Linked DNA regions of Homo sapiens. The protein of the gene in region 4 purifies or fractionates together with the protein of the main gene of each other region. This does not show direct contact. Each region holds a gene or a part of one and is shown on either strand. Other genes may lie near its edges. The genes, in order: DCAF4, PPP1R9A, ZBTB5 and DCLK2.

Region 1 (7,533 bases), on a different chromosome or scaffold from region 4:
TTGCTGGAACCCGGCTCTCTCTGAGCGCTTTCCAATAGAAGTGGTGGGTTTTGGTTACAGCCACCCACAGCCCAACCAGAAGGGAGCCGGGGAACCACTCCCTCTCCTCTTGCCCTCTGTGTTCTACTGCTGCTTCCCACTGGCTGAACCTACCTAGCTGCTGGGAGCCAGGGAACCCTGACCTAGTCCAGAGGTGAGTCTTTTGGGCATGCACAGAGCAGGGTGGAGATGGACAGATGATGAGGGCAGAGTGGGTCTGGAGGGGCCCAGGGAAGCTCTCCAGGAAGGCTATGAAAGCTGGTCCCAGCAGCCCAAGCTCATGATCTCCTAAGTCATTCACAGAAGTGCATGTCACACCATGATTCTTCTCTTGGTTTTATTGTTTGGTAGAAAAACAGGCTCTTTAACACTGAATAAACATCTCACGAACTGTCGCTCCTAGATTACAAAAAGTCAAAACCAATTTCCTTTGACGCCGGGCCCTTGAATCTGACATTCAAGTCACCGTAATAGAAACCAGAGCTGCTGAACCTTACATTCTGGAAGGTGCTTGAACAAAGGCATGTTAAGGACCGTTTAAAACTTCTAGCATGTAAGAAGATCCATCTTTCCTTCCAACGCCTTTGGATAATAACAGCAGAATCCCGGAGATCTGCTGCTGAGTTTGAGAAGGCCAAGTTTAAGGATTCCAAACTCCAGCCTTCAATATTTCTGCAGAAACTTAGAGAAGTAACCTCCCCGTCCTCTCCGCTGGCTTCCCCAAGTACAGATGCAGGATGCAGGTCTTTCTTCCTGCTACCCAGGCACCGAGGACTCAAACCATCTCACCGTCTCATCACTGGGCTTCTTCAATGGGCTCTTGGAGGAAGAAGCTTTTCGTTTTTGCCAATCTTCAGTCCTTAGAAAAGTCCTTTTTGTTAAGAAAAGGCAGGGAGGGTTAACTAAGTTCTAAGAATTCAATAAGAAAAGGAAAGAGGTACCTTTTATGAAAAGGACTTCCAAGCTCTCTCAGCCAGCAATTTAACTCAAATAACTTTCCTGAGCATCTCCACACGGAACATTCAGCACTTCTCTCCTAGCAGCCAGAGGATGGGATCTGTGTACACTGAGTGTCACTTAAAACACCCTCATTAGATGCAGTAAAAAGTTACGCTTTACTCCCGTAAGTCAAATCCACATGGCTCTGGGCTGTGCCCTGCAGAATTAGCTGTAGGAGTAACAGTAAAGGTCCTGCCCGACAGCCATGAGCAGCCCCGGCGCGCCCCGGGAGCCCCCCAGCCGCGACGAGAAGGCCACACTGGGAATGTCGGCCTTGGAGGCAGGGTACGGGGAGGGTATGGTTCTCAGTAGGCGGGCATCGTGGAGGCTCCAGATTCTCGTGTAGCAGTCCTGGCCCACTAGGAAAGAGGAGAGACACATGGCAGGCTAGTGAGAGAATGCAAAGGAAAACTTACCTACATGTGGACATGGCTTCCCAAGATTCCTCAGGGCTGTGATTTCATGTGAGCCAAAACACAAACTCATTAACGGACAGTATTTCTACGGATAACCCAAGTCGCCCTGTTGTGCTAGAACAATGACAAGATGCCCTGGTTGGCTGTGTGATGCCATGAATGGCTCGGAGACATCCTGGCTAATGTCTGGGTATTCTGCTGCTCTTGATGTCACGGAACGTTCAAGTGCGAGTGTGGCCCACCTGGTCTAGGTGACATGCAACTGATTTCCCCCATTTTTTAGGGACAGGGTCTTGCTCTGTCGCCCGGGCTGGAGTGCAGTGGTGTGATCAGGGCTCACTGCAGCCTTGAACTCCTGGGCCCAAGCCATCCTTCTGCCTCAGCCTCCTGAGTTAACTGGGACTACAAGTGTGTGCCGCCATGCCTAATTTTTTTTTTTTTTGAGATAGGGTCTTGCTGTGTTGCCCCAGCTGGTCTTAAACTCCTGGCCTCAAGCTCCCTAAGTGCTGGAATTATAGCTACCACACCTGGCCTGATCTTTTCATGTTATAGTAAAAGATCTGTCAAAGTCATTACATCCTGGGGATGGGCTAGGTTGACAACTCTCCCCACAGCTCTTTCTGGTTTAATGCTTCAGTTCCTAGGACCGGTTTAAGTCTTCAGGGCTCCAGTTCTGAGGACTGTGACACACAACAGCATGGGTTACAGCAGCCCAGAAACATGATATACACTACTGGAGACCTTCAGCAGGAGAAGAGGACAGGCCTTGGGCAGTCATGGATTTCACATTTGTGATTCTGATCACTTGTGTGGCTCTAAGACCAGAAGTGCTATCTTGGCTGAAGCTGAATCCCGGCTGCAGTTTATTACTGCAGCTGGTAACTACCTGCATCTGCCTCTCAGCAAGGCTGAGCTCTCTCTATCATCCAGCTCACAAGAGCTCTTCTGTGATAAAAACAGGTGAAAAATCGACTTAAAAAGGAGGCGAAGTCCTGGTGTTGATGAGAATAGTAAATAAGTCTATGAATGTCCTAACAAAGTAATGCTTCCTAGCCACAAAAATGTTCCATGGGGTATAAGCCCTTTCTATAGGAATACCAGTAGAGGTGACAATTCTTGAAGACTGAGAACACATTCTGCAGTGTCAGCAGCTACTATTTCAGTGTGAAAGCATTGAGCCTGCACACTGTCTGATTACGCTATAGCCACCATCATCTGTAATCAACTGGTAACTCCCTTCCAGGGGGCTTAGTGGCCAGATAGCTGCTCCTAATCTGCAGATCATGGAGCCACAGGGATGGTAGTAAAGGGGCCACAAATCTTTTTTATTTATTTATTTATTTTGAGACGGAGTCTCGCTCTGTTGCCAGGCTGGAGTGCAGTGGCGTGATATCGGCTCACTGCAACCTCCGACTTCCTGGTCCAAGCAATTCTCCTGCTTCTGACTTCCGAGTAGCTGAGAGATTACAGGCAGGTGCCACCATGCCCAGTTAATTTTTGTATTTTAGTAGAGATGGGGTTTCACCATGTTGGCCAGGATGGTCTCAATCTCCTGACCTCGTGATCCACCCTCCTTGGCCTCCCAAAGTGTTGGGATTACGGGCGTGAGCCACCGCGCCGGGCCGGGGCCAAGAATCTTTACAATGACCATAACTTCTTTTCTCAGCATCCTCTGGTGGAAATGTGAGTAGAGACAACAGGGAGCCCAAGTTTTTGGATAAGATAGTTGCGTGGTGGAATAATGCTGGCCTGATGAAATCCACTCAAACTCCAAACCCAGGCTCCCCAGGACCTCCCCACCTGCCTGTTTCTGAAGTGACGTTTGCCCACTGACATGGGATGAGGCTGTCCACCTGGTGGACATTTATTTACACTCCTGATTACTAATATAATCTAATTCTACTTCCCTCCTAGTCTCCCCACCCAGCTGTCCACACTCCCCTTGATTCAGTTCTGTTTTGGGGTAACTTTTCCCTCTGCTGCTGAAGTTGCTGGGATCGCCCCTGAGAGACAGTATTTGATGGGGTGGAACTTCCCCTTCCTTCCTCAAGTACCTGCCACCAGGATTCCTTCTTCCTCGTGCACATGCAGGGGCAGGTAGGCGTACTCATTCACGTGGCCTTCGTACTGCCTTACGCACTTCGTGGTCCTCAGGTCCCACAGCTTGATCTGTGGAAAAAGCACCAGGGGCCATCAGGGAGGGGCCAGGGGGTACCATGGTGGTCCCCAAGTGCAAAGCCAGGAAGGCAAGGTGGTCTCCAGTGGCCTGTGCAGGTCATGAAGATCTCCATCTCGAATTCTTGAGCCTTGTTGTTCATCAAAAGCATGTAACCAGGCCGGGCACGGTGGCTCATGCCTGTAATCCCAGCACTATGGGAGGCCAAGGTGGGCAGATCATGAGGTCAGGAGTTCGAGACCAGCCTGACCAACATGGTGAAACCCCATCTCTACTAAAAATACAAAAATTAGCCGGGCGCAGTGGCGGGTACCTGTAATCCCAGCTACTCAGGAGGCTGAGGCAGGAGAATCGCTTGAACCTGAGAGACAGAGGTTGCAGTAAGCCAAGATAGTACCACTGCACTCCAGCCCGGGCGACAGAGCAAGACTCCATCTCAAAAAAAAAAAAAAAAAAAAAAAAAAGGACATAACCAGAGAATCCTTTTCACTTTTGTTTACGTCAGATTAGGCTCATATGGTCAACGAAGCAGTCCCCATGCAGGGCCTACAAATCACTTGGTCTTCAGCGAAATTCCCCTGCCTGGGGTCTTGGTGTGAGGACCTCTTCAGCAGAACCCTTTCACCTGGCAGGGCACTGGGCCACGAGACCCTGTGGCCTGAGAAAGTCCATGATCCCCTACCTTTCCAGCCATGTCTGAAGCCATCAGGTATTGCTCATCTTGGAGGATCCGCACAGAGGTCACTGCTGAATCATGAAACAGGCGGGTGGCCTTCCATCCCTTGCCTTGATTTCCACAACGCAGATCAATGGCAAAGATTTCCCCAGAGCGGCAGCCATTAAACAGCAGAGGAGCCTGTGGAAAGAGGGACTGCTCAGTGCCTGGCTATCATGACATCCCTCTGAGGCTGGGCAGGGCAGGTCCTCCTGATACAACCCCTCTTCCAGCCTCTGGGTCAGACGGTGTGATTAGACACGTGCTGGTCAGGGTTTGGGTCTCAATGGAGTTGGAAGGGAGGATGATTCCTTGTTAGTGGCTAGAAGAACCAGACCCCATGTGTCCTCCTCATGGGTAGCACGGAGGTCCTAGGAGCTGCCCCCCACCCCCCTGCACTGTCCCGTTTGGCCTTTCTCTCTGAAGTCCCAGAGATAGCATTCCATCTCCACCAAAAGCAGGTTAGTGGGTTCATTCACTTTTAAGGGAAGACGGCATTTTCTAGAGAAAAGTCTGTGAAATATAGTAATGACCACAATTTTTTTTTTTTTTTGAGACAGAGTCTTGCTCTGTTGCCCAGGCTGGAGTGCAGTGGTGTGATCTTGGCTCACTGCAACCTCCGCCTCCCGGGTTCAGGCAATTCTCCTCAGTCTCTCGAGCAGCTGGGATTACAGGCGCCCAGCACTATGCCTGGCTAACTTTCGTATTTTTAGTAGAGAAGGGGTTTCACCATCTTGGCTAGGCTGGTTTTGAACTCCTGACCTTGTGATCCACCCATCTTGGCCTCCCAAAGTGTTGGGATTACAGCCATTCATTAGCCACTGTACCTGGCCTGATTTTTTAAACATATAAAATATATAACCTGGGAGCTGTGAAGAATTGGTGTTTGGCTTATACATTTTAAAAATGGTTTGTCCTACTGGGTAAATCCAAGTACCCAAGAACTGCTCACAATACCTTTCCATGAGAGGTTGTGTAGAGCAACTCAGGCCAGCCTTTCTGGATCAACCAACTTTCACTCGGCTCAGACACCCTTACAAAGGAACCCACTGATCCTTTCTGATGCTCTTTCTCCCCTGTCAAAGAGTACTAGATGGCACACAGAGGAGTCCAATTTCAATCTGGCCAAATTTCTACATGGGGCAAACTTTTATATTCTGCCTGTCCCAATCCAACCAACCATGAGAGCAAACTGCTGGGCCAAGACATCACTGTTGGTCCCAAAGGACTGCCGGTGTCCCGTCACCACGTTGGTCAACAGGACCCGCCGAGACAAGCCTGGCGGAGACAGAGATGGGCTGGTAAGATTATGTCACATGTAGTCTGGGGAGAGGGACAACTACATGGGGTTTTAAGGCCTGTTAAGGCCTCTTCTCTGGGCACCTGGGGAGCCAGGCTCACCTGTACTGAAGCAGTTATTTGCTTGGATATTCAGGGACCAGGCACAGGACCAGGCACCAGGGATCCGGAAACTGCAGAGCATGCCAGGCCGGTCTATTCCTGCTAAGGGGATAGGAGAATGTAAAGTGTGGCTGCCTTCTAGGCAGGCCAGGGACCACTGGGTTCGGAAAACATCCAAATATGCCCATAGCTGCTCAGAGGGTCTATACCTTTGGCCCCATTCTGGGTTTTGTGGTTGCAAGAGAGACTCAGCTGGGATGCCTGGCTCACAAGTGGTTATTCCGAAAATGCATCTTTGTTAACGTTCCCAGTAGTCGTGTTTACAGTACGAATAGTACTGATATCAGGGAGGTAGTATACTGTTGGAGGTAAGGTGGCTCCGATCCTCGATCACCTACCAGCTATGTGATCTCAGGCAAGTGTGTGTGTATATACACACACACACACACACACACACACACACACACACACACACACACAAATAAATAAATAAATAAACTATATATATATATATATATATATATATATATTTTTTTTTTTTTTTTTTTTTTTTAAGACAGGGTCTTGTTCTTTTGCCCAGTCTGGAGTGCAGTGGCGTGATCATGGCTCAATGCATCCTCAACCTCCCAGGCTCAAGGAATCCTCCCATCTCAGCCTCCCAAGTAGCTGGGATCACAGGTGTGAGCCACCACACATGGCTAATTATTTATTTTTTGTAGAGATTGGAGTCTTGCTATGTTGCTCAGGCTGGTCTTGAACTCCTGGGCTCAAACGATTATCCTGCCTTGGCCTCCCAAAGTGTTGAGATTACAGGCATGAGCCACTGTGCTTCGAAAAAATATTTTTTAAAATAAACTTTTGCATTGATAGAACGTACAGATTGTAAGGATACAGTTCAGTGAGTTATCACAAACTAAATATAGCCATGTACCCACCACCCAGGTTAAGAAATAAAACAATCCATGCCAGGCGTGGTGGCTCACGCCTGTAATCCCAGCACTTTAGGAGGCCGAAGCGGGTGGATCACCTGAGGTCGGGAGTTCGAGACCAGCCTGACCAACATGGAGAATCCCATCTCTACTAAAAATACAAAAATCAGCCGGGTGTGGTGGTACATGCCTGTAATCCTGGCTACTTGGGAGGCTGAGGCAGGAGAATCGCTTGAGCCCCAGAGGCGGAGGTTGCGGTGAACTGAGATCGTGTCATTGCACTCCAGCCTGGGCAACAAGAGTGAAACTCCATCTCAAAAAAAAAAAAAAAAAAAAAAAAAGGCCGGGCATTGTGGCTCACACCTGTAATCCCAGCACTTTGGGAGGCCGAGGCAGGTGGATCACGAGGTCAGGAGTTCGAGACCAGCCTAACCAACATGGTGAAATCCCGTCTCTACTAAAAATACAAAAATTAGCCGGGCGTGGTGGTGTGCGCCTGTGATCTCAGCTACTTGGGAGGCTGAGGCAGGAGCATTGCTTGAACCTGGGAGGCGGAGGTTGTGGTGAGCTGAGATCGTGCCATTGCACTCCAGCCTGGGCAATAAGAGCAAAACTCCGTCTCAAAAAAAAAAAAAAAAAAAAGACAAGACAAGACATAAAACAATCCAGTACCCCAGAGGCCTCCCTCACATCCCTTTCCCAATTACTACCTCCCCAAAGGGTACTGTGAGCCTGACCTCCAACACTAAAAATTACTTTTGTAAGACAAATTCTGAAACTGTCTGCCTCAGTTTCCTTATCTGTAAAATGGTGGTAAGACACACTCCTGCCTCATAAGCTTGCTGTGCAATGAAATAC
Region 2 (7,533 bases), on a different chromosome or scaffold from region 4:
TTGGCTTATCTTTAGTTGTGATTTGTTAATGCTACATATTAAAGTATTTATTTTTGATAAGACGAGAGCTAAAATGATTGACTCCTATTTTGATAAGCCTTTTCTTCTTTCCCATAGTAGGAAGGTATTTCCAACTTTTAAATCTCTGGGTCAGAAAAAGAAAAATAAAAGGCCAAATTACACAGTCATCAAAAATGATTTTTGTGGTTGGGTTAAACAAACCTTGACTTAGGCCATCTTGGCAAGATGTCTGCTTGCCATCCAAGTTCTCCATGGTATCCCCTTTAGAGACTTCACCAAGAGATGTTCTTCTCTCAAAGATGTTGTTATTATTGTTAACTTGAGTCCCATTTTGCTTCAGTAGCCTGAATACCTCAGCTTCCAAATCTCTAATCTAGGAAAAACAAATCCATTTATAAAACTCTAAACTAGCGCTCCCCTCCAAGTACAGCAAAACCATCTTATTATTTAGTGTCTTAGGGAACACAACTTACCCGCACTTGGAGGCCTTGCACTTCCACAAGATGAGCTTTTTCCAAATCTTCTATTTTCTTTCTTTCTGCTTCCTGTCTTTTGATGAAATCAAGCTCTCTTAAGAAGAAAATAATAGTTCTGATTATATCATACACTCAATAAATGAAAGTTCTTATCTGAAACAATAAACTGCATAGTAGGATAAGCAACTGAACAGTTATTTAAATGGACAACATTCAATCAGTTAGAGGAAAAAGTATAGTAATGAAAGAAACTAAAACATCTTTAATGGGTCACAAGGCAAAGAAAAATGATTCGATTCTGCTTACTATAATTTTCTTTCGTAGCTCCTGATTCTAGAACACCCATACATATTTAGATAGGAAAGACTGCACTAATGACCCACATTGGGTAATTTAGTGGAGATAATTACTTGTCAGGTAGAAATAATTCCATTTTTCCAATGTCATAAGCATAGTATAGTAAACTGATGTAACTAGATAAGAGTTCGAAAAAGATAATTGTAAGATTTCTATGAATAACAGTGAAGAGGGGGCTGGGTGGGTCAGAAACATCGAGAGGGGCACTCACTTATAGACCTAAGGATAATATGGGGAGAAGAGAAACAGTTCCATTTTGAAAACCTGGAATAGAATATGCAAATTTAGCAAAATTTACTATAAAATTATTTCATGAAAAAGAGTTTGGCAAATAGTTAAAACAGTGATGTATTGAATTTATAGTCACAGAGAATAATTACTCCCCTTTTAACAAGAAACTTTTGATAGCAAAACTCTTTTAAATATTAAAAACATTCTTCCACATAATAGGAAATAAAAGAAATATGGTTAATCTTACATATATGCTTAGCTTCTGAGGCTTGGCATGGAAGACCAGAAAAGGTACTGGTACTACTTATTTGTTCTAACTAGCCAGAAGTAACTGATGAAAAAAATCTAGTAAAAATCTCCGTGGTCAGTCTCCGTGACATTACACCGAGATCCAAGAGATGGAAGCAAAGGAGCAGTAGCTCAGAAACAGCTGTTGAAAATCAAAAGCAGAATGTGGTAATGGTCTCTCTCCCTGCAGTGAAAGGAGGCCCTCCTGATTCTCTCAACAGCTGAGAAATGCAGAGTGGCAGGGCAGGGGGCCTTGCTAGTCGATATGTGCACTGTCTGTAGTGGGAAATTCTGTAGTTACTGATCTAAGAATAGAGAGGAGCAGCCTGATTCAGGCCCCAGCTGTGGCTTGCGTGCTCCACATCCAATAGTCAGTCATTCTACATGACTTTCCGCTGGGCTTCTTGTTTCTAAATCATAGAGGTGTTTCAAAAAGAATAAAGAAATTCAGATGTTTTAACAGTTATAAACAACGATTAATTATCAAAAATAGCAAAGAGGCCCTGGCAGCCAAAAACTATAAAATATACAAAACATAATCTCATGAAAAAGTGATAGAAGTGACTTCCAAAACTTAATGTGTATTTATGCTGTAACTATGCTCCTGGATAGGAAAGATATCTCTAAGGTCATCTTTTCTGTTCCACTAGATATTACAAAATTATTGGACATAAACCTTCTTTAGACAAACATAACTATTCTTTAGTTATTAGAAGCGGCTTACTTTTGTTGAAAATCCTTGATCAACTTCTTTGCCTTGTTGTATTTCTTTTCCAAGGCCTGATACTGGCTTTGAGTCTCTTTGAGATGCTCATTCACTGTGTGGCATAATGTTTGGGCCTCAATCCAGTAGCTTTCCAACTTCAACATTCTTTCCTTATTCTCTTCTATGTTTTGTTGGAGTTGGGTTTTTTCTAGTTCCCACCTCACTTTCTCATTTTCTGCTGCCTGCAGCTGGAGAAAGCAAACGTCAAGGCAAAGATAATTTGGCCACTTTTGTGGCAAAAATCTCTCATTTTTATAGCATGTTGTAGATCAAGTTCTATTATCATAAACAATCACTGAATCCACTTGAGATGAGAAAAGCAGGTATTATTTTTATAATTCCACAGATGATAAAATGGAAGCCTTGAAAAGTGAAATGATTTGTCCAAGGTCACACATTTGATAAGTGATAAAACATGGATTGGATTCCACCTCACACGATATTTCCATCACACCAGGTGATCTGAAATTCTGTGAGCAGTAAAAGATGTTTCAGAGTTTGATATATCCAACGAATGTCAACATGTTTTGAGAGTTTTTAAAAAATATATAATTATATATAAAAAATTAACTAAAAAGGGAGTGGAGAGGGCCAGGGAGGAGAGAGGAGTTAGAAGCACAGTATGGCTTAATGGTTAAGAGGGGATCTCTGGAGTCATTCAGCATGGATTTGAATCCCAGTTCTGTCATTATTGGCCATTAAACCTTGGACATGTAATTGAAGTTCTCCAAGACTCAATTACATCATCCATACAACAGAATTGTGATATAACACATCAGAATGCTTGAAATAGCTCCTTGGGCATAAGAATCATCTGATAAACATTAACCACTTTCACTCTGCTTTTAACCCTTTTGGTGATCTTATTTCATTCTTTATTTCAAGGAACATGAACATATTCTATAGCTCATTATTTTACATGTAGTGTAATGAATTTCTCAAGCTTTATAAACCTCAATTCCCATAAAAATATAAAAGATAGTGTAAGTAAAAGTATAAATTTTTGCTTGGTTAATTTAATTCCCTCCCACGGAACAGAAAGCCATAACCAGCTTTTTGTTTTTCTGCTTCTAGGGACTCTTAGGAATAGATAGTAAACTAGTCTAATACCCTCATTTCTACAGAAATCCAATACTGATCATTTAGGTGAGGGCTCAAAAGTCATTCCCAATAACTCTCTGGCCTTCAAACTGGTACTTTATCTACTTTATATGCCTTCTTTAAAGTTCAAAAGGATGCAAAGTCATTATAAACTATCAATGTTCAAAATCATATAGCACTTAGCAAAAGTAAACATGTATTTATATACACACACATCTATGTTTTTGCAAATATTTTTAACTAAACACATTTGCAAAACAGTTTACAAAGTTAGAAAGCATCCAAAACAATGTCAAGATTAGGAATTCTATTATCAAAATGAATAATAAAGAATCATAATAAAGTGCTAATCTGTGGATATTACATGCCAATATAATGATGAAAAAATATAAAATGCTAATTTATAGTATTTTCTAAGTTAAATGTCTATAGTCTAATACATAAGCGCCATTAAAACACAATCACAGGGAAAAAGAGATCTTTTTAAAACAACAATTTAAAAAATCTTCAATTCTTTCTATGTCAAGAGACAATGACAATTTAAAACAGGAATAGGTTATTTACTGCATCTTTTATTAAGCAATGTTTTGTATCAAGTTGTTTATTTAGCAACCGCCACTAATTTAAAATTATTATTCACGGAGCTGGACTAACACCGTGAATGATGTATAGTCGTATTTTGACTAAAGAGCTGCAGAGTGAATTAGCTGAGAATAGCATTTAACCAAAATAGCCTTGCTAATTCATCTCCATTTAAAACACACGGAGAAACCAAAACAAGTGTTCAATGTGAACAACAAAAGAGATCATTAGTGGTAGTGGTGGTGGTGATTGGGGGCGGGGGAGGGTAATTATGTTTTAATTTTTAAAAGACCATTGAAACAATAAAGAATATTGCTTTAAAAGTAATTTAAAATATATTTTTAAATCTTTGAAATTGTATATTTGATAAAACTAAACAAAATTGCTAGAATTGTGTCTCATACGAGTGCCTTAAAGTTTGTCAATGAAAATATATAGACTAATAATACATACTCCCTTTTATCAAGACCTTTTCTCCCCCACAAATTTAAATTATGTGAACCAAACAACTAAAAATTTCCAGTAGTACCTGGCACTTAAATTATGCATGTATTAAGTTTATAAGATTTAATTATTAGAAATTAGAAATGGTTTATAAAACATTGATGTGCTATACTAAATTTGTTCCTACAAATGATTAAATCTATTTATAATAAGGTAAGTGAAGAGGAGATATAGTAGCTTTGCTTAAGGAATTAGTAATCAAAACATACTTTGCATACTTGAACCATTAAAAATATTACTTTTTAAGGAAATCTCAGAGGCCACATATGTGCAAATACATAAATATATATATCTAAAATATTGTGTTATTTGCACTGAGGGGGATGTGGGTGTTTGCTCTCACTGGCAGGTTTGTCTACGTACCTGACAGTGAAAATGAATCTATCACATTTGCATTCTTTCAAATATACAGGGACAAAACCTTTAGTCCTAGGATTGGATTTATTCATAGTATCTGAAGTTTAAAAAGTAAAATTCAAACACCATGTTTCGGTGCTTACCTTGGTCTTCAATTTTTGAATCTCTGCTTCTGTAACTGCATGTTTGATTTGCAACTGAAAATTGAAAAGAAAGAAAAAATCTGAACTAAGAAAGTGTATCTATATTTGTAAAGCCTCAGCAGCTACAAGAATGCCTTATTACATAGTAAAAGGCCTAGAAAAGTGCTGCAGTGCAGCAAGTTGTAAATTAAAGTGTCTACTGTGTGAAATGACACTGGGTGCAAACTAATTAAACACAGTTTATGGTCTATACTCCCTAACATCAGATTAGGTTACCAATTTAATTGCTCAGGGACCAAGAGAAGAAAACACTTTTTATTGCCCTCTTTGCAGCTCTTCCTTTATGATTTGAGCGTCAAGGAACTGTTTCCTTGCTAAGTCTAGCTAACTGAACGGCATACACAGGCAAGTGAGCTGATAGTGTGATTTAATTCCAAACCTGGACGTGTGAAGATTTATTCCAAATCTGCAAGAAAGGTGGCGCTATGGTCCTGTGAGTTGCAAGCACATTCTGATCAGCAGCTCCACTGCAAAGGGAGAGAGGAGGAGGACTGCAGTTGCACGGGGAAATCTCTGATACATATTTTTTTCTTTTAATTGCAGGAAAGGTACAGATCCAGATTTCTGTCCTCCAAAAGATCTGCTCCTTTTGAAGACTCAGACCCCCAACAGCTTCTGCCACAGCTTATTAGCAATAAGAGTCACAGTTTACATTTGTTTTGCTTGTCCCTCCCCCCGCTTTGTTTTCTTTGTAAGGGAAGAAGAAGGAACTGAACGAATCATTCGTTTCCTTAGGGGATCAATAAATACTCCCAAATTTAAGAAAAACAACTTATGGGTTCACAATTTCTTGTCTGAAATCCTTGGGGCCAGATGTTTTTGGAAGTCAGCATTCTTCCAACTTCAGAAAAGTAGTTACGATGTATCTTCTACAAATTGCTTATTATCCACAGCAGGGTCTTTGGAGGCACTCTATAGTCAAAAACACATGAATTATTTTTGCCACCAAACATGAATATTCCCACTAAGCGAGGTACATGAAGACTGTAAATAGCATCCTGTTAGGTCAGGTTGTACCACTAAATTAGTTTGACACAAAATTACAAAAAAGACTGGGAGCGTTTTGGATTTAAGACTGTACATGAGGGACCATAAACTTTTACTATTACTGTAATCAAGTAAGGCTAAGAGGTTTTCTTATCAGAAGTGAGTGAGTCTGACAGAAGGACAGAAATGTGGAGTTTTCAGACTAGCAATGTGAACCTGTGGAGACCACAGCACCTCATAAACCTCAGCCCTCTCTTGGGTTTGCAACCTGTATTCCCTTGGGTTTTTACCAAGTTCATGGGGACACATGGGAAGGATGATAAAGGGAAGATGGAAGAACCAAGGACAGGTCTATTCGACCCCCTTGGATGCCTGTGGCTAACTGCCCAGAACCTGAGGGTTCCTAAGTTCCTTGTAAAGTGCTCCTCCTGTTATGCAAAAGGCATGAGGTCTGCACTGCCACAGCTCTTGTTACTGCTCTTGGTGCTGAGAGTGATTTTGAAACTTTTCAGTTTGATTCTGCCGCACTCACACTGCTTACATTCTTCCTGACCTGGTCACTCTGGCCATCTTGCTGGTGTGGCTATTGCTCCTTGCACCCTCACCGGCTCCTAGGGGCTTCTATGCTTGAACAGTTTCTAGAGTAGGACCCTATGTGGAAATGTTATTTTTATAAGACACAAAATCTGGCTCTTTTAGTTTCTTACCACAGCACAAGTGGTACAATTCTTACTTACCTGCCTTTAGCAGATGCTCAGAGTATTAGTGCACCTGGCAAGGAACCTAATCACAAGTTTTCTCAATGACTAGATTGGAAGAAGGTGTAAAGACACAACAGTGCTGCTCAGAAATCCCTGCAATTCCTACCCCTTCACTGATGAGGTCTATACTCATCCTAAGTCCTAGTCTGGATGGATCTTTTGGAATCCTGACACACCAGGCTAGCCAGTCAGATAGGCTTGAATGCCCAGTGGACGCTCCAACTGTAGGCTCTTCTGAACTCATTTTAGACACGGGAAGACTAAAGATTGGAGAAGACAGCCAACCTGGTCTTTTCCTCACAGTGAATCACCATTAAAACCAGAACTAAAACCTGGATCTTCTCGTTCTGATCCATTGCCACTTTCCTTAGAAAATAAGGATGAATTCAATAGGCATTCGTTGAAGAGTTGCTATGTGCAGGATGCTGTAAAAATGACTTTTTCTCCCTCTAATAAATATTAGGGCTAATCTCCCCCACCAGTATAAACTAATAACGTAAAAAAGGGCAAAAGTACTTAGACATTAGACACATTATTTATATATAAATCTACAAAAACAAATAATGTATATGCACACAAACATACATGGCTATGTGCTAAGGCATCCAGAAAATCCATACACTTAGGTGATTTTATAGGATTTGCAATCGCTATTGACAAGATATACTTCTTGTTCTTTCAACCATGTGCCAAGCATGAAGAGTAGTTAACTTAGACTGCTTGAATTCATCTCTGGTCTACCATGTACTCTATGGAGCATTAGAAAATTACTTAACCTCTTTCATTTCACTTTCCTTGCCTGTAAAATTCAGTTCCTTATAAGTCATAACCTTCCTTATTGGATGATTAAGTGATAAAACCCATATAAAGCACTTAGCACAGTGGCTAGCATATAGTAT
Region 3 (7,533 bases), on a different chromosome or scaffold from region 4:
TGGTGTTTCTGGGACCACAATTTAAAAAAATTGTTTATTTATTTATTTTAGAGATGAGGGCTTGCCATATTGCCTAGGCTGTTCTCCAACTCCTAGGCTCAGGTAATCTTCCCATCTTGGCCTTCCAAAGTACTGGGAATTACAGATATGAGCCACCATGCCCAGCCCCGTAATTTTTAAGTAAGCCATTTTTCTCATATAAGTTCTTTTGCTTATCTAAAAAAAAAAAAAAAGAAGCATTGAGCAGAATATTAGTGCCCTTTTAAATCAGTATGCCTAGTTGAAATACTATTTATTTGTGAAGTCAGTCTTTTATGGCCCCCCTCACCTATTAACTCAGGAAAATAATTCCCACCTGCCACTGTTGTTTTGAAGATTAGAAATAATGTAAATTAAAAGTACTTAGCATAATGACTGTCAGGCTCTCAGTAATTACTGTTATTATACCTGTAATCCCAGGCTGGCAGGAGGATTGCTTGAAGCCAGGAGTTCAAAGCTGCAGTGAGCTATGATCATGCCACTGTACTCTAGCCTGGGCAACAGGGTGAAACCCTGTCTCAAAAAAAAAGCACAGTAAAAAATATATATTTTATTACCACTACCATTACCTCTGTTACTGTCACCAGTGAGACTGTTACTACAATGCTGGGTGATATGGCTTGGCTCTGTCCCAACCCAAATCTCATCTCAAATTGAATCCCCACATGAAGGGAAGGAGGTGATTGGATCCTGGGGGTGGTTTCCCCCATGCTGTTCTCCTGATAGTGAGTTCTCACAACATCTGGTGGTTTTATAAGTGACAGTTTCTCCTTCACACACTCACACTCTTCTGCCACCATGTGAAGAAGGTCCTTGCTTTCCCTTTGCCTTCCACCATGATTGTAAGTTTCCTGAGGCCACCTTAGCCATGCAGAACTGTGAGTCAATTAAACCTCTTTCCTTTATAAATCACCCAGTCTTGGGTATTTCTTTATAGCAGTTGAAAACAGACTAATACACTGGGTCTATTCCCCACTGTAGGAGAGAAAGCAGTAACGCTGAGTGTCTAGTGTTCCTTGTTTTTGCCTGTTGAGCCCAAGCTTCCATGGTCGCTTAGAAGAGCAACTCTGAGTCTTGTACAACTTCCCACCACAATTCCCTGTTTATTTTATTCCTCAAACCAGAATGTTTCTTCCCTGTTACTGCTACAAAATAATTACCCCTCTGGAACTTGGCACTTATTCATATATGAGTGTACTTTCTAAGGCAGGGCTATAGACTTAATGAGCAGTAATTGCATTTTGTTTAATCTCCCCAAAGCCTTAAGCTCTGTGGGCCCTGAGTGAGTCGGGTGGGGACCCGGGATGTGTGTGCTGCTGCCTGCCACTGCTGGCTCTCTGCTTTCTGCCGGAAAGCTTGGTAAAGCAAGAAGGGATGTGGCAGTGGCTGCATCTTTGGAGATCTGATCTCTCATACATGATAGCAAAGAACAGACACCTCAGTGGGAAAGTATGTGTGATCTATTTTGTTGTTGAAAGTTCATCAAAGCTCAACAAACATAGGCAAAACAATATGGCCAACATGTGTCTGCTGCTTTGAGGCATTTGCTTTTCCGATAGTTAACTTTCCAAGTATAGCTGAATAGCATAATAGTCTCAGTCGCCACAGTAGACCCTTGAATTTTGTGGACTTAGTTTGCCATTTCAGTTATTTCCCAGGATCCTGACCAACTTTGGCCTGTAAGGCTGTATGGCTGGGACATCAGAGCAAGTGGTTGGGCCTGGGGAGCCACTTGGCACCCATGCTGCCTTCTTATGAAATGCCATGATGGTATTTGTGAATTTTGGAGATTTGCAAAGATCTCAGGTATATCCCTTTAGAATATCATAGATCTACCTTTTTTAAATTTAATTTTATAAATATATGTGTATACATTTTTATGTATTTATTTATTTGAGACAGAGACTTGCTCTGTCGCCCAGGTTGCAGTGCAGTGCAGCGATCTTTGCTCTCTATAACCTCTGCCCCCTGGGCTGAAGCAGTCTTCCCACCTTAGCCTCCCAAGTACACTGGGACTACATGGCAGGCACTCGCCACCATGGCCGGCTACTTTTTGCATTTTTAGTTGAGATGGGGTTTTGCCATGTTGCCTAAGGTGGTCTCGAACTCCTGAGCTCAAACAATCTGCCCGCCTCAGTCTCCCAAAGGGTTAGGATTACAGCCATGAGCTACCACACCCAGCCTATAGTTCCATAAGGCTTATAGGTAAAAAGAAACAAAAACAACAACAAAACAGCAGTCCCCTGTCCCATCCTTTTCCCCATCAATTACCCACTCCTCAGAGGCAACCACTTTCAATTATTTCAGCTGTTTCTTCCACTATTGACTTCCATATTTCTTTTTTCTTTTTTTTTTTTTGACAGGGTCTCACTCTGTCTCCCAGATTAGAGTGCAGTGACGTGATCTCTGCTCACTGCAAGTTCTGACTCCGGGCTCAAGTGATCCCCCTCAGCCTCCCAAGTAGCTGGGACTGCAGGCACATACCACCATGCCTGGCTAATTGTTTTTGTATTTTTAGTAAGAGATGGGGTTTTGCCCCATGTTGCCCAGGCTGGTCTTGAACTCCTGGGGGCTCAAGGGACCCACCTACCTCGGTCTCCCAAAGCGCTGGGATTACAGGCGTGAACCACCAAGTTGGTTAACTTCTATACTTCTAAATAACATGCCAAATTACTATTTTTTGAGATAACCTATTTCAGACTGTATTTCTAGATTAATAAGGAAAGTGAAGATTTAACTTTATTATACCTCATCTCCTCTACCCTCTTCCCCCATGCAAAGTTGCTTTCTCTCATCCTCCCAATATCTCACATTCGGTTTAGTGTACATATTTTATGACTGTGTAAATATTGTCTACGAATGAACTACATATTGTGTCCTGTGAGTAAACAACCTTTTTTTTTTTTCCTGGAGTTAATCATTGATCCATTTAAAAACTTCTTGTTTTTTTTAATGACCTATCTGCACACTTGGATAGGACTGGTAAATTACAAGCACTCCCAGTCACATCAGGTTATCTATCCATTCCTTTTTTTCCCACCCCCCTTGGAGACCCACTCCTTGGAGTCCTTCCTGCTCCAGTCTGACTGCTTTTGCTCTCCAGGCCTGCTGCCTAGTTGTCATCTGGAGCTTCATCATCATCCTTGGGATTCCCTTTGCCTGTCTTCTCTGGTGGGTCTCCTGTTTCCTACAATCTTAGTCGCCTCCTGAGAAAGGATAAACCTTTGGGTTCTTATCTGAAAATGCCTTAGTTTATCCTAATTGATTAATAGTTTAGCTGGGTGTGGCATTCTAAGTTGGAAATCATTTTCTTGGATAATTTTGAAGGAACTGTCATCTTCTAGCTTTTAGTGCTGCTGTGGCAAAGACGAATGCCAATTTTATTCCTGATGTCAGCCTAGTGTGGGGATTTGTATCTTCATATTTTGAGTACTTGTTGGGCCTTTTTAGTCTTAATAAGCAAATTTCTTCAGTTCTCAAAATTTAAAAAATACCATTTCTTGGCCGGGCGCAGTGGCTCATGCCTGTAATCCCAGCACTTTGGGATGCCAGGGTGGGCGGATCACCTGAGGTCAGGAGTTCAAAACCAGCCTGACCAACAAGGTAAAACCCCTGTCTCTACTAAAAATACAAAAATTAGCCGGGTGTGGTGGCGTGCACCTATAATCCCAGCTCGTCAGGAGGCTGAGGCAGGAGAATCACTTGAACCCGGGAGGCGGAGGTTGCAGTGAGCCGACATTGCGCCACTGTACTCCAGCCTGGGGGAACAGAGCGAAACTCTGTCTCAAAAACAAAACAAAAAACCATTTCTTACATCATTTTCACCCTCTGTATTCTTCCTTTTCTCTTTCTGTAGTCAAGATATTGGACCTGATTAATTCCTTCTCTTATTCATTCACTTATTTTTATTTTATTTTCTGAGACAGGGCCTTGCTCTGTTGCTTAGGCTGGAGTGCAGTGGCCCAGTGACAGTTCACAGAAGCCTTGACTTCCCAGGCTCAAGTGATCCTCCCACCTCAGCCTCCCAAGTAGCTGGGACCACAGGTGCACGCCACCATGCTCGGCTAATTTTTTTTTGAGACAGGTTTCACTCTGTCACCCAGGTTGGAGTGCAGCAGTGCGATCTCTGCTCACTGCAGCCTCTGCCTCCCAGGCTCAAGTGATCCTCCCCCTTCAGCCTCCTGAGTAGCTGAAGGCACATACCAGCATGCCCGGCTAATTTTTTGTATTTTTGGTAGAGACAGGGTTTCACCTTGTTGCCCAGGCTTGTCTCAAACTCCTAAGCTCAGGCAATCCTCCCACCTCAGCCTCCAAAAGTGCTATAGGATTACAGGCATGCGCCACCACATCCTGGTGTTTTTTTGTTTTTGTTTTTTTTAATTGGATAGATTTTCAGCCAGGCCTCCTGCCTTAGCCACACCTTCATTCCATTTCCCCTGGCAAGGGCAACCAGTTCCTTGGCCTTTGGGAATGAGATTTATATATGTTAGGTTGTTTTATCCGCTGCCCAGTTTAGGATTTTCGCTTTTGGGGTGTGCTGAGTCAGTTAGCACTCATTTACCTCTCCCCAGCTTCCAAAATGCTATTGAAGGCCTTCTCATTCTCTTTTTCCTTGTGGGTTTACACCTTTAAAGTTTAAACAAAAACTTTAGTGTTTTTTTTTTTTTTCCTTTGAGATGAAGTCTCACTCTGTCGCCCAGGCTGGGAGTGCAGTGGTGTGATCTCAGCTCACTGCAACCTCCGCCTCCTCAGCCTCCCGAGTACCTGGGATTACAAGCATGCACCACCATGCCTGGCTAATTTTTTGTATTTTTAGTAGAGACAGGGTTTCATCATGTTGGTCAGGCTCGTCTTGAACTCCTGACCTCAGGTGATCTGCCCGTCTCAGCCTCCCAAAGTGCTGGGATTACAGGCATGAGCCTCCATGCCGGGCTTCGTGTCATTTTAGTGGGGTTTCAGGAAAAAGCACGGGGCAAATGCGTGTGTGCAATCTGCTACCATCTATAACTGGAAATCTTCCACACTAATATTGATTTGCCCTTTTCACTTATTTAGGGTTCCTAAGACTTTGGAATTTCTTGGTATTCATTCCTCATCCTTAGGGAATGCAGAATTCTAACAAACTTCTGTGGGATAGATATGCCATCACTCACACACTGGTCTTTACTAATTTAGACCCTTAGTGTTATACATGGCTCATATGAAGAGTAAAGGGGAGCCTGTCGGTAGCTAGGCCCACATGTGTGCATGCCTCCTGGGCTGATGGCTGAATTGCCATTTGCTTCTTATATGACAAGCTCTTAGTGTATGTGCCCATTATCAGAGATATCACGGGCTTCAAAGGTCCAAGCTTGGCCATCCATTCCACTCTTTTCATCATACCCTTTGTGTTCTGACTTTGAAGCTTTTCTAGGTCTTAACATTTTCTTTCTTTGTTTTTCTGTAGGATCATGGATTTTCCTGGTCACTTTGAACAAATCTTCCAGCAGCTGAACTACCAGAGACTTCATGGCCAGCTCTGTGATTGTGTCATTGTAGTGGGGAATAGACACTTTAAAGCCCACCGCTCCGTGCTGGCAGCATGCAGCACGCATTTCCGAGCCCTGTTCTCAGTGGCAGAAGGAGATCAGACCATGAACATGATCCAGCTGGATAGCGAGGTGGTGACAGCAGAGGCCTTTGCTGCACTGATTGACATGATGTATACCTCCACCCTCATGCTGGGGGAGAGCAATGTAATGGATGTCTTATTGGCAGCCTCTCACCTGCATTTGAACTCTGTTGTTAAGGCATGTAAACATTACTTAACGACAAGGACGCTGCCCATGTCTCCCCCCAGTGAGCGCGTTCAGGAGCAGAGCGCCCGCATGCAGCGCTCCTTTATGCTACAGCAGCTGGGACTAAGCATCGTGAGCTCAGCCCTCAATTCCAGCCAGAATGGCGAGGAGCAGCCAGCCCCCATGAGCTCTTCCATGCGCAGTAACCTGGATCAGCGCACGCCCTTCCCCATGAGACGCCTTCATAAGCGCAAGCAGTCTGCAGAGGAGCGGGCCAGGCAGCGCCTCCGACCCTCCATAGATGAGTCTGCCATTTCAGATGTTACACCGGAGAATGGGCCTTCAGGGGTTCATTCTCGGGAGGAGTTCTTTTCACCAGATTCTCTGAAAATTGTGGATAATCCTAAAGCTGATGGAATGACTGATAACCAGGAAGATAGTGCGATCATGTTTGATCAGTCTTTTGGCACTCAAGAAGATGCCCAGGTGCCCAGCCAGTCTGATAACAGTGCTGGCAACATGGCACAGTTGTCCATGGCCTCTCGTGCAACTCAGGTTGAGACTAGTTTTGATCAGGAAGCTGCACCTGAGAAAAGTAGTTTTCAGTGTGAAAACCCTGAGGTTGGCCTTGGTGAGAAGGAGCACATGAGAGTGGTGGTTAAATCTGAGCCCCTGAGCTCACCTGAGCCTCAGGATGAAGTGAGCGATGTGACCTCACAAGCAGAAGGCAGCGAGTCTGTGGAAGTGGAAGGAGTTGTGGTCAGTGCCGAGAAGATAGACCTCAGCCCTGAAAGCAGTGATCGGAGTTTTTCAGATCCCCAGTCTAGCACAGACAGGGTAGGTGATATCCATATTTTGGAAGTCACAAATAACCTAGAGCATAAGTCCACTTTTAGTATTTCGAATTTTCTTAACAAGAGCAGAGGAAATAACTTTACTGCAAATCAGAACAATGATGATAATATTCCAAACACCACTAGTGACTGCAGGCTGGAGAGTGAGGCCCCCTATTTGTTGAGTCCAGAGGCTGGGCCTGCAGGTGGGCCCTCCTCTGCCCCTGGCTCCCATGTAGAGAACCCATTTAGTGAACCTGCAGACTCCCACTTCGTCAGGCCTATGCAGGAGGTGATGGGCCTGCCGTGTGTGCAGACTTCAGGCTACCAAGGAGGAGAACAGTTTGGGATGGACTTTTCCAGGTCTGGTTTGGGCCTCCACTCCTCCTTCTCCAGGGTAATGATAGGTTCCCCAAGGGGAGGAGCCAGTAACTTTCCTTACTACCGCCGCATAGCTCCCAAAATGCCAGTTGTAACTTCCGTCAGGAGCTCACAGATCCCAGAAAACTCTACCAGTTCTCAGCTAATGATGAATGGAGCTACGTCCTCATTTGAAAATGGCCATCCTTCCCAGCCTGGCCCTCCACAGTTGACCAGGGCATCTGCAGATGTTCTGTCAAAGTGCAAGAAGGCCTTATCAGAGCACAATGTTTTGGTTGTAGAGGGAGCTCGCAAGTATGCCTGCAAAATCTGCTGCAAAACTTTTCTGACTTTGACAGATTGCAAGAAGCACATCCGTGTTCACACAGGTGAAAAGCCTTACGCCTGCCTGAAGTGTGGCAAGAGGTTTAGTCAGTCCAGCCACCTGTATAAGCACTCAAAGACTACCTGCCTGCGCTGGCAGAGCAGCAATCTTCCCAGCACTTTGCTCTAGCTGTTTGTCC
Region 4 (8,273 bases):
ATAATGTTAGGGAATAATGTTAAAATACTGGCATATTTTTATTTTTTTAAATTTTACTTTAAATTCCAGGATACATGTGCAGAATGTGCAAAGGTATACATGTATACGTGTTCCAAGGTGGTTTGCTGTACTTATTGACCTGTCCTCTAAGTTCCCTCCCCTTGTACCCCACCCTCCAACAGGCCTTGGTGTGTGTTGTTCCCCTCCCTGTGTCCATGTGTTCTCATTGTTCAACTTCTACTTATGAGTGAGAACATGGGGCATTTGGTTTTCTGTCCCTGTGTTAGTTTGCTGAGGATGATGGCTTCCAGTTTCATCCATATCCCTGCAAAGGACATGATCTTATTCTTTTTTATGGCTGCATAGTATTCCATGGCGTGCATGTGCCACATTTTCTTTATGCAGTCTATCACTGATGGGCATTTGGGTTGGTTCCATGACTTTGCTATTGTAAACAGTGCTGCAGTAAACATACGTGTGTGTGTGTGTCTTTATAGCAGAATGATTCATATTCCTTTGGGTATATACCCAGTAATGGGGTTGCTGGGTCAAATAGTATTTCTGGTTCTAGATCCTTAAGGAATTGCCATATTGTCTTCCACAATGGTTGAACTAATTTACATTCCCACCAACAGTGTAAAAGTGTTCCTATTTCTCCACAGCCTCGCCAGCATCTACTGTTTCTTGACTTTTTAATAATTACCATTTTGACTGCCATGAAATGATATCTCATTGAGGTTTTGATTTGCATTTCTCTGATGATCAGCGATGTTGAGCTTTTTTTCATATGTCTGTTAGCTATGTAAATGTCTTCTTTTGAAAAATGTCTGTTTATATCCTTTGCCCACTTTTTGATGGGGTTGTTTCTTTCCTTGTAAATTTGTTTAAGTTCCTTGTAAATTCTGGATATTAGACCTTTGTCTGATGGGTAGACTGCAAAAATTTTCTCCCATTCTGTAGGTTGACTGTTTACTTTGGTGATAGTTTCTTTTGCTGTGCAGAAGCTCTTTATTTCCATTTGTCAATTTTGGCGTTTGTCGCAATTGCTTTTGGTGTTTTCACCATGAAGTCCTCACTCATCCCTATGTCCTGAATGATATTGCCTAGGTTTTCTTCTAGGGTTTTTATGGTTTGGGGTTTTACATTTAAGTCTTTAATCCACCTTGAGTTAAAAATACTGGCATATTGTATAATTGTACTCACTATTTAAGAAGGGCCAAATCTCTTATCAAGGATCTTTGAGTGAGGAAGTGCATGTTAGTGTTCTAAAGATTGAAAGATTGAAACCCGTGGTACCAGTCTGCAAGATGACCCCAATAATTGCTGACTCCTAGTCACACCCTAGTGTAGTCTCCTCCCACATCAAACAGGGCTGCCTTGTGTAACCTACAGGATATTGTGGGAATAACAGTGTATGACTTCCAAGGCTATATCATAACACACATTGTGGCTTCCACCTTGTGCTCTCTTGGATGCTTTCTCTAGAGCAAGCTTGTCCAACCCATGGCCTGTGGACTGTACACAGCCCAGGACAGTTATGAATGCAGCCCAATGCAAATTCGTAAACTTTCTTAAAATATTATGAGATTTTGTGATTTTTTTTTTTTTTTTAGCTCATCAGCCATCATTAATGTTAGTGTATTTCCTGTGTGGCCCAAGACAATTCTTCTTCCAATGTGCCCCAGGGAAGCCAAAAGATTGGACACCCCTGCTCTAGAGGAAGCCAACCGACAAGTCATGGTGACACTTAAGCAACTCTATGGAAAGGTACTCATGACAAGGAACTGAGGCCTCCTTACCATTCATGTGAATGGGCTGTCTTGGAAATGGATCTTCTTGACCCAGTCAAGCCTTTAGATGGCTGTGACCCCTGTCAACATCTTGACAGCAATCACATGAGGCTTTGAGGTAAACTGCTCCCAGATTTCCGATCTGCCAAAAATGCTGAGATTATGCATGTTTATTGTTGTAAATCATTAAGTTTAGGATAATTTGTTTCTACAGCAATAGTTTACAAAGTCTTTTTCCCCCTAAGAAATACTAACAGTGATACAAATGAACATGGCCATCTTAAGGCAAGTTGATGGGCTCTGTGGAGTTACTGGTACTTAGATGGAAACTTATCTCAATAAATTTGCAATTTAGTTTCTTGTTTCTCAAAGTCTTGTACCAAGACCAGCAGCATTGGCATTACCCAGGGGCTCATCAGAAATGCAGAATCTCAAACTCCACCCCAGAGCTACAGAATAGCAATCTGCATTTTAACGAGATTCCCCTATGACATGTAAATATATTAAAGTTTGAGAAGAAGCACTGATTTATTTGATTCCTGGTGTTACAGCCTGTGGTTGGAAACTCTGGATATACCTTAGGGGTACTTTTAAAAAAATACTGTTGGAGAAGCCCGTCTCCAGAAATTCTGATTTAACTGATCTAGGTTGAGGCCTTTTAAGGTGGTGGACCTAATGATGCTGCAGGATTTTCCTCTAGAAAAACTACATTGAAGCCTCAGATCAGCTCTGACTTCCTAGCATGCCCCAACCCCGCAGGAAGTTAGGTATGCCCAGGTGTATGCCCAGAACTGCCTTAGGAGTAGTATTGTGCACCGAGCAGGAGACCTTTCTGGAGCTGCCATGAAGGGTGTGTATGCGTGTGTGTGCGTGTGTTTGGTGGGGCGCACCAACTTCACAGATGCTAGACCGTTGCATGTGCTTCTACCTTCTTTTATTCATGCTCTTCCAGGACTCAGTTCAACCCGAAAAAAAGCAACTATGCCTTTCTTCCTGAAAGGTCAGTTTGGATTGCTGTCTAGGGCTGCTCAGAAAACCAGGTGTTGAATGTTCTAAGGTTTCACGTGCCAAATTGGGATCAAACATATTTGAGCTTTATTTTTCCTAATAACAAAATGCAAGTAACTAGTATTTCTCTTAAGTCTTGGAAAAGATGTTTTTATTGTTGAATAGACACTACGGCATTAAGATTTCCACTATGATGGGTGCTCACAAATGATAGGCCTCTTAGGTAAGAAGCTTTAATTGACAACATTAAATATGCGGGGCGGGGGGAGTGGGTGCAGAGTCTCTCTTTCCTTTGTTAGGGCATCCCAGTGACAGAAACAATGCCTGACACATGGTACGCTCTCGATAAATATTCGTTGATTACATAACCCCCTCTACCACCCAATAACTTCTCATCATTCATTCAAAGTTACTGAACGTACCATATTAGCGAATCTGCAATGGAAACAGTGGAGGCTGTTTTCTCAAAGGATTTTCTAATAAAGCAACAAATCTTTTTTAAAAAAAATGAATGGTGTGCCCCAAGTCAATGCTGGGCTTCGGATTTCTGCGGTAGTTTGGCCTGGGGTCCTCACTGGGATGCTGGCTGGGGATGTGCTCCCTGCCCTTGAATCTCCTTCCTTTGTAGTTTTTGGCCTGCGCGGTTACGTTTCCCAGGCGGAGGAGCGCGCGTCGCGGCTGCGCCCATTAACGCGCGGCGCCGGGCAGGAGCCGTCAGGCGGGCGGGGCTGCCCGGGACCCGCAGGAGCTGCTCCTCCCGCGCCGGCGCTCGGCCCCCTCCTCCGCCCCCTCCTCCGCCCCCTCCTCCCCTTCTCCGCGGTTTGGCATCCCCGGGGCCGGGAAGCCTCCTCCAGCGCTGACAGCCTGTCGGCGGCGGAGGGAGGCCAGAGCGCGGATGCTTGCCAGTGGGCCGGGCCTGACCGCTGCGTGGGAGGCGGGCTGCATTATTTCCCGCTAGGGCCGCGCTCCAGGGAAGGAAGGGGCCAGACACGGCCCTCTCAGCCCCGAACGGCGCGCGCTGCCCGGCGGGCGGGATCCGGGCGCGGCCGAGGCGGCGGCGCTGCACCCCGGGCCTGGGCCCGCGCGACTCCCCCGGGGGCCTCTCCCACGCTCCGCGCCCCGCCCCACCCTTCCTTCCTTCCTCCCCTCGGCGCTCCCGGGAGCGCTCGGCAGACGCCCGAGCTTTGTGGGCGCCCGCGGGCCCAGCGCGAGCCTCGGGCGGCCCAACTTTGCCTCTCCCGGTCGGCTCCCGAGCGGGACTTGTGAGGCGTGGCCGGGTGGAGGAGGCGCTTGCGGGGGCGTGGGGCTCCCCGGCAGGCGGGAGGCACGGAGCAAGTCGCACTGGACAATGACCTGGGCAGCTCGGCGCTGCGGACACTTTTAGCTGAGGGCGCGGGCGGGTCGGCTCCTCCGCGGCTCCTCGGCCCCACCTGCGCGGAGAGGGCGGGATGCCAGAGCCAGGTGTCCCGGCGCGTTAAGGGCCCTCGCAGTCAGACGTCCCTGCACCGGCGCTCGCACCCTTAGTCGGCCCGGAACGTCTTTTTGCGGACGCCCTCGGAGCAGCCGCGATGGCCAGCACCAGGAGTATCGAGCTGGAGCACTTTGAGGAACGGGACAAAAGGCCGCGGCCGGGGTCGCGGAGAGGGGCCCCCAGCTCCTCCGGGGGCAGCAGCAGCTCGGGCCCCAAGGGGAACGGGCTCATCCCCAGTCCGGCGCACAGTGCCCACTGCAGCTTCTACCGCACGCGGACCCTGCAGGCCCTCAGCTCGGAGAAGAAGGCCAAGAAGGCGCGCTTCTACCGGAACGGGGACCGCTACTTCAAGGGCCTGGTGTTTGCCATCTCCAGCGACCGCTTCCGGTCCTTCGATGCGCTCCTCATAGAGCTCACCCGCTCCCTGTCGGACAACGTGAACCTGCCCCAGGGTGTCCGCACTATCTACACCATCGACGGCAGCCGGAAGGTCACCAGCCTGGACGAGCTGCTGGAAGGTAGGAGGGGAGGGCGCCGCACGGCAGGTGCGGCGGAGCGCCGGCAGGTGCAGTGGGCGTGAGCCGGCGCAGCGGGGAGCCCGCGGGGTGCTTTCCAAGCCGCACGGGAATTGATGCTTCTGTCTGCTTCTCTAGAGATTGGCTGGGGGTGGGGGCCGGTGGGGTGCCCACATACACACTGACTTTCCTTCCCAAGAGGTTTGTCTCTTAAAGAAGGAAAAAATTTCCTGATGGTCAGGCCAATTTAGGCACTGGTGGCATCTCCTAAGATTGTTGAACTTATTTGTATTGAAGTGCAAACTGTTTGAGAAAATGGTTCTCCCATGGGGAGCTGGGTAATCCCCTACTAATAAGCTCTGTTGGACCCTCGGTGTGGACCCTGGTGCAGGCTCCTGTCATGTTCCAGTATTCGGGGTCCTGTTGTGACTGCTGTCAGAAGCTGTGGTTGTGAAATGCTCTAGGTTGGCTTTCCTAGTTTGCCTTGCAGCAGAAGTTACTTGAGGTGAAGAGGGATGATCCTAGACAGCAGGTCTCAACCTTGGCTTCATCTTGGATCACACTGGGGACTTCGAAAAATATGGGACCCTGATCCCCCAACCCCCAGATATCCTGATTAAATTGGTTGGGTTTGGGGTGTGGGTTAGGCGTCTGGAGTCTCAAAAGCCCCCCCCCCAGGTGATTCTAATGTGGGACCCTGGTTAACAATCACCGTGCTAAAGGGTTTTCCACATTTGGTTGGAAAAAAGGTAAATCAAGGTCAATCTCTCCAGCCTTATCCTCTAATAAGAGTACCTAATTAGAATGATAGAGGCCATTGGATTCAGCAGTGGGGACTTATTAAAAATTAGTAATTCTGCTGTGTCAACCATGCCTCGGTCAAAGAGACTGCTTGGCTGGATGTTGGGTCATCCTTGAATTCCTGCAATACGTATGCCTCATCCTTTTCAGGTAGAAAAGGCATTATCAGTGGTTAAGAACCTGTTTCCAGTTCTAAATAACATCCAGAAAGACCAGGCAGAACCCAGGTATGTGCTGACTGCGTGTTTACATACAGTCCGCTCTTGTGCATCTTTCTTAATGCAAATGGCACATTCCATGTAGTCATAGCAATAGCTTGGCAGGGAGAGGAAGCTGAACATCAAGCCAGATGTTTTTCTTATATTATCTCAGCATGCTTTTCTGTCCTGAAGGCATTATCCCCATTTTATAGATGAGGAAACTTAGGCAGCATGCCTTGCCTCACAGTGCCTGCAGCATATACTTTCTCGTCTACGATTCACCTCTGCTGAGCTAATGGAGCCACATGGAGGAAAACTAAAGGTCGTTGAGTTTGTCTATTTAGTCAGAAGTTTTTGCTGCCCTGCCTAGAACGCGACCCAGCCAAAATTAAATTGTCTCTTCAGTCTACATATGTATGTGCTTGTGACTTCACCCATTCTGTCAGTTGTGTGTTTTGGTTTTAAGGGCTTCTTGAGGAGGTAAGGGGATAGCTGGAGGAGTATAAGTAAAAAAGGAAGATACAATGTTCAAAGGGCCTTGTTGCTTTTCTTAATCATGTTAAACACTTAAAAGCAATATTTGCCTAGCTATTTTAAAACAGAGTAACCAGTTGTTTGACTGACCCAAGATCAGATTTGCAGGATCAAGGCAATGCCTGTTTGCTTAAGCACTTGTTACTCAACATGCCATTGGGATACTACTGTTCCTGGTATGGTTTCTTAAGAGTCAACAATGTTAATATCCTTCTCTAAAGAAATTTTAACAGTGGATTTACTACATAAAATTGACATAACGTAAACATGAATCTCATAGGAGAGATGATAAGATGGACATTATGCATGTCCATTAATAGGAGTACTTAGTATAGATTGCGTCTTTTACCGCCCACCGCATGCATGTCCACTGGGTCTACTTCTGCAACTGTAGTTTCAACTACAAATTGACTTAACAAATTTCCTTCAAATCATTCACTGATTTTTAGTGGATGGGGATTTGGAAAAAACATTATCTATGGAGTCCAAATCATACCAAAATATGATAAATAATATAACAAATAGTTGCACAGCCAAAATTTTTTTTATGACTTTGCCCACTTCTTTGAAGAAGTTTTTAATACAATAAAATTACTGCAAAAGAAGAAAACTTGGACACTTTTTTTGTCATATGGAACTCTCTCTGACAATGGGTCTTTGTTTAATTCTTCAGTTTTCCCCCAAATTAGTAGAATACTCCATAGCAATGCAATTTTTTTTTTAAAGAAAATATAGGTACAATAGTTCACGTCTGTAATCTCAGCACTTTGGGAGACTGAGGTGGGTGGATCACCTGAGGTCAGGAGTTCGAGACCAGCCTGACAAACAAGGTGAAACCCCATCTCTACTTAAAAAAAAAAAAAAAAAATTAGCCGGGTGTGGCGGCAGGCGCCTGCAGTCCCAGCTACTCAGGAGGCTGAGACAGGAGAATTGCTTGAACCCAGGAGGCGGAGGTTGCAGTGAGCCAAGATCACACCACTGCACTCCAGCCTGGGCGATGGAGCAAGACTCTGTCTCAAAAAAAAAAAAAAAAAGAAAAGAAAAAAAGAAAAAGAATCACGAATGCTTACTGTCAATCATTCCAGAATGTAAGTAGTTTCAACTTTTAATTAAAATTGTGTGCTCAGATTTTTCATGTAGGAGAACTAAGCAGCTATCTGTGAAGTTATTTGCATTAGTAAAAATAAGTCTGTAATATATTCACCACATTGTCAAAATTGACTGCTTTATTTCGTTTTGGTTGATTATTTTTAATAAAGCTCTCTCAGGTAGTATTTTACAACATTATGTTCAACTAGGCTCTACTTCTTCGATCCCATGAAACTTGTAGTTTAAGAGGTATGTTTTTTTCTGAAATGTCTTGAGTGAAGAATAGAAAGTGATGACTCAAAACAGTAGGATATGAACATTCATTCAGAGCCCCAATCTCATTGAACTCAGATGACAAAAGAAATTTGCATGGCCCAAATTATTTTTTCTTCTGCCCTTGACCTTGAGAGTCTCTGGAGACTAAAAGCTGTTCTAGTGTGAGCTGGCACTCCTCCAGCACTACACTAAACCAGCAAGCACCTTCAATTTATTGATTTATCCATCCTTGCTGGATTAAGTTTGAGTTGATGCTGTGCAGTCCTGTAATCCTGTTTATTCTTTAAAACTAGTTGGGGGACCTCTTCCGGCAGGACTGTGGCTCTTAATCAATATTGGAAAAATTAGTTGAGCTGTCTTAAGCTGTGAGCCTGCTGAGCTCAGTATCTGTAATAACCAACAGAGAATGTCCAGATGACTTGTTCTTTAGCTTTCTTATTAGGGACTGATTCAGAATTCCTAGTCTTAGTTCTGTTCCGTGTGTCTTCTCTCCTTCTGAGCGTTTGGTCTTCTCTCCTTCTGAGCATTTTGAAATATTTATAAAGTTTTGATGACCTAAAGAGATATAACCAAGGACAGTAGAAAAAGT

Evidence for each region.
Region 1: the proteins of DCLK2 (region 4) and DCAF4 purify together in Homo sapiens (co-immunoprecipitation; one large-scale study listed by IntAct). This does not show direct contact.
Region 2: the proteins of DCLK2 (region 4) and PPP1R9A purify together in Homo sapiens (affinity purification with mass spectrometry; one large-scale study listed by BioGRID and IntAct). This does not show direct contact.
Region 3: the proteins of DCLK2 (region 4) and ZBTB5 purify together in Homo sapiens (affinity purification with mass spectrometry; one large-scale study listed by BioGRID and IntAct). This does not show direct contact.

What each region holds. Positions count from the first base shown.
Region 1 is NC_000014.9:72,952,476-72,960,008, reverse strand, and holds the end of DCAF4 (DDB1- and CUL4-associated factor 4), read right to left. Parts: intron 5,849-7,533; coding exon of another isoform or gene 5,846-5,848; coding exon 5,747-5,845; intron 5,624-5,746; coding exon 5,526-5,623; intron 4,487-5,525; coding exon 4,313-4,486; intron 3,624-4,312; coding exon 3,509-3,623; intron 1,398-3,508; coding exon 1,204-1,397; 3' UTR 306-1,203; downstream 1-305. UniProt on the Homo sapiens protein: May function as a substrate receptor for CUL4-DDB1 E3 ubiquitin-protein ligase complex.
Region 2 is NC_000007.14:95,244,820-95,252,352, reverse strand, and holds part of PPP1R9A (neurabin-1), read right to left. Parts: exon of another isoform or gene 6,444-7,533; coding exon of another isoform or gene 6,415-6,443; intron 5,799-6,414; coding exon of another isoform or gene 5,742-5,798; exon of another isoform or gene 5,371-5,741; intron 5,354-5,370; coding exon of another isoform or gene 5,266-5,353; intron 4,881-5,265; coding exon 4,827-4,880; intron 2,328-4,826; coding exon 2,098-2,327; intron 592-2,097; coding exon 495-591; intron 395-494; coding exon 223-394; intron 1-222. UniProt on the Homo sapiens protein: Binds to actin filaments (F-actin) and shows cross-linking activity. Binds along the sides of the F-actin. May be involved in neurite formation. Inhibits protein phosphatase 1-alpha activity.
Region 3 is NC_000009.12:37,440,508-37,448,040, reverse strand, and holds part of ZBTB5 (zinc finger and BTB domain-containing protein 5), read left to right. Parts: intron 1-5,485; 5' UTR 5,486-5,489; coding exon 5,490-7,523; 3' UTR 7,524-7,533. UniProt on the Homo sapiens protein: May be involved in transcriptional regulation.
Region 4 is NC_000004.12:150,074,662-150,082,934, forward strand, and holds the start of DCLK2 (serine/threonine-protein kinase DCLK2), read left to right. Parts: upstream 1-3,783; 5' UTR 3,784-4,366; coding exon 4,367-4,787; intron 4,788-8,273. UniProt on the Homo sapiens protein: Protein kinase with a significantly reduced C(a2+)/CAM affinity and dependence compared to other members of the CaMK family.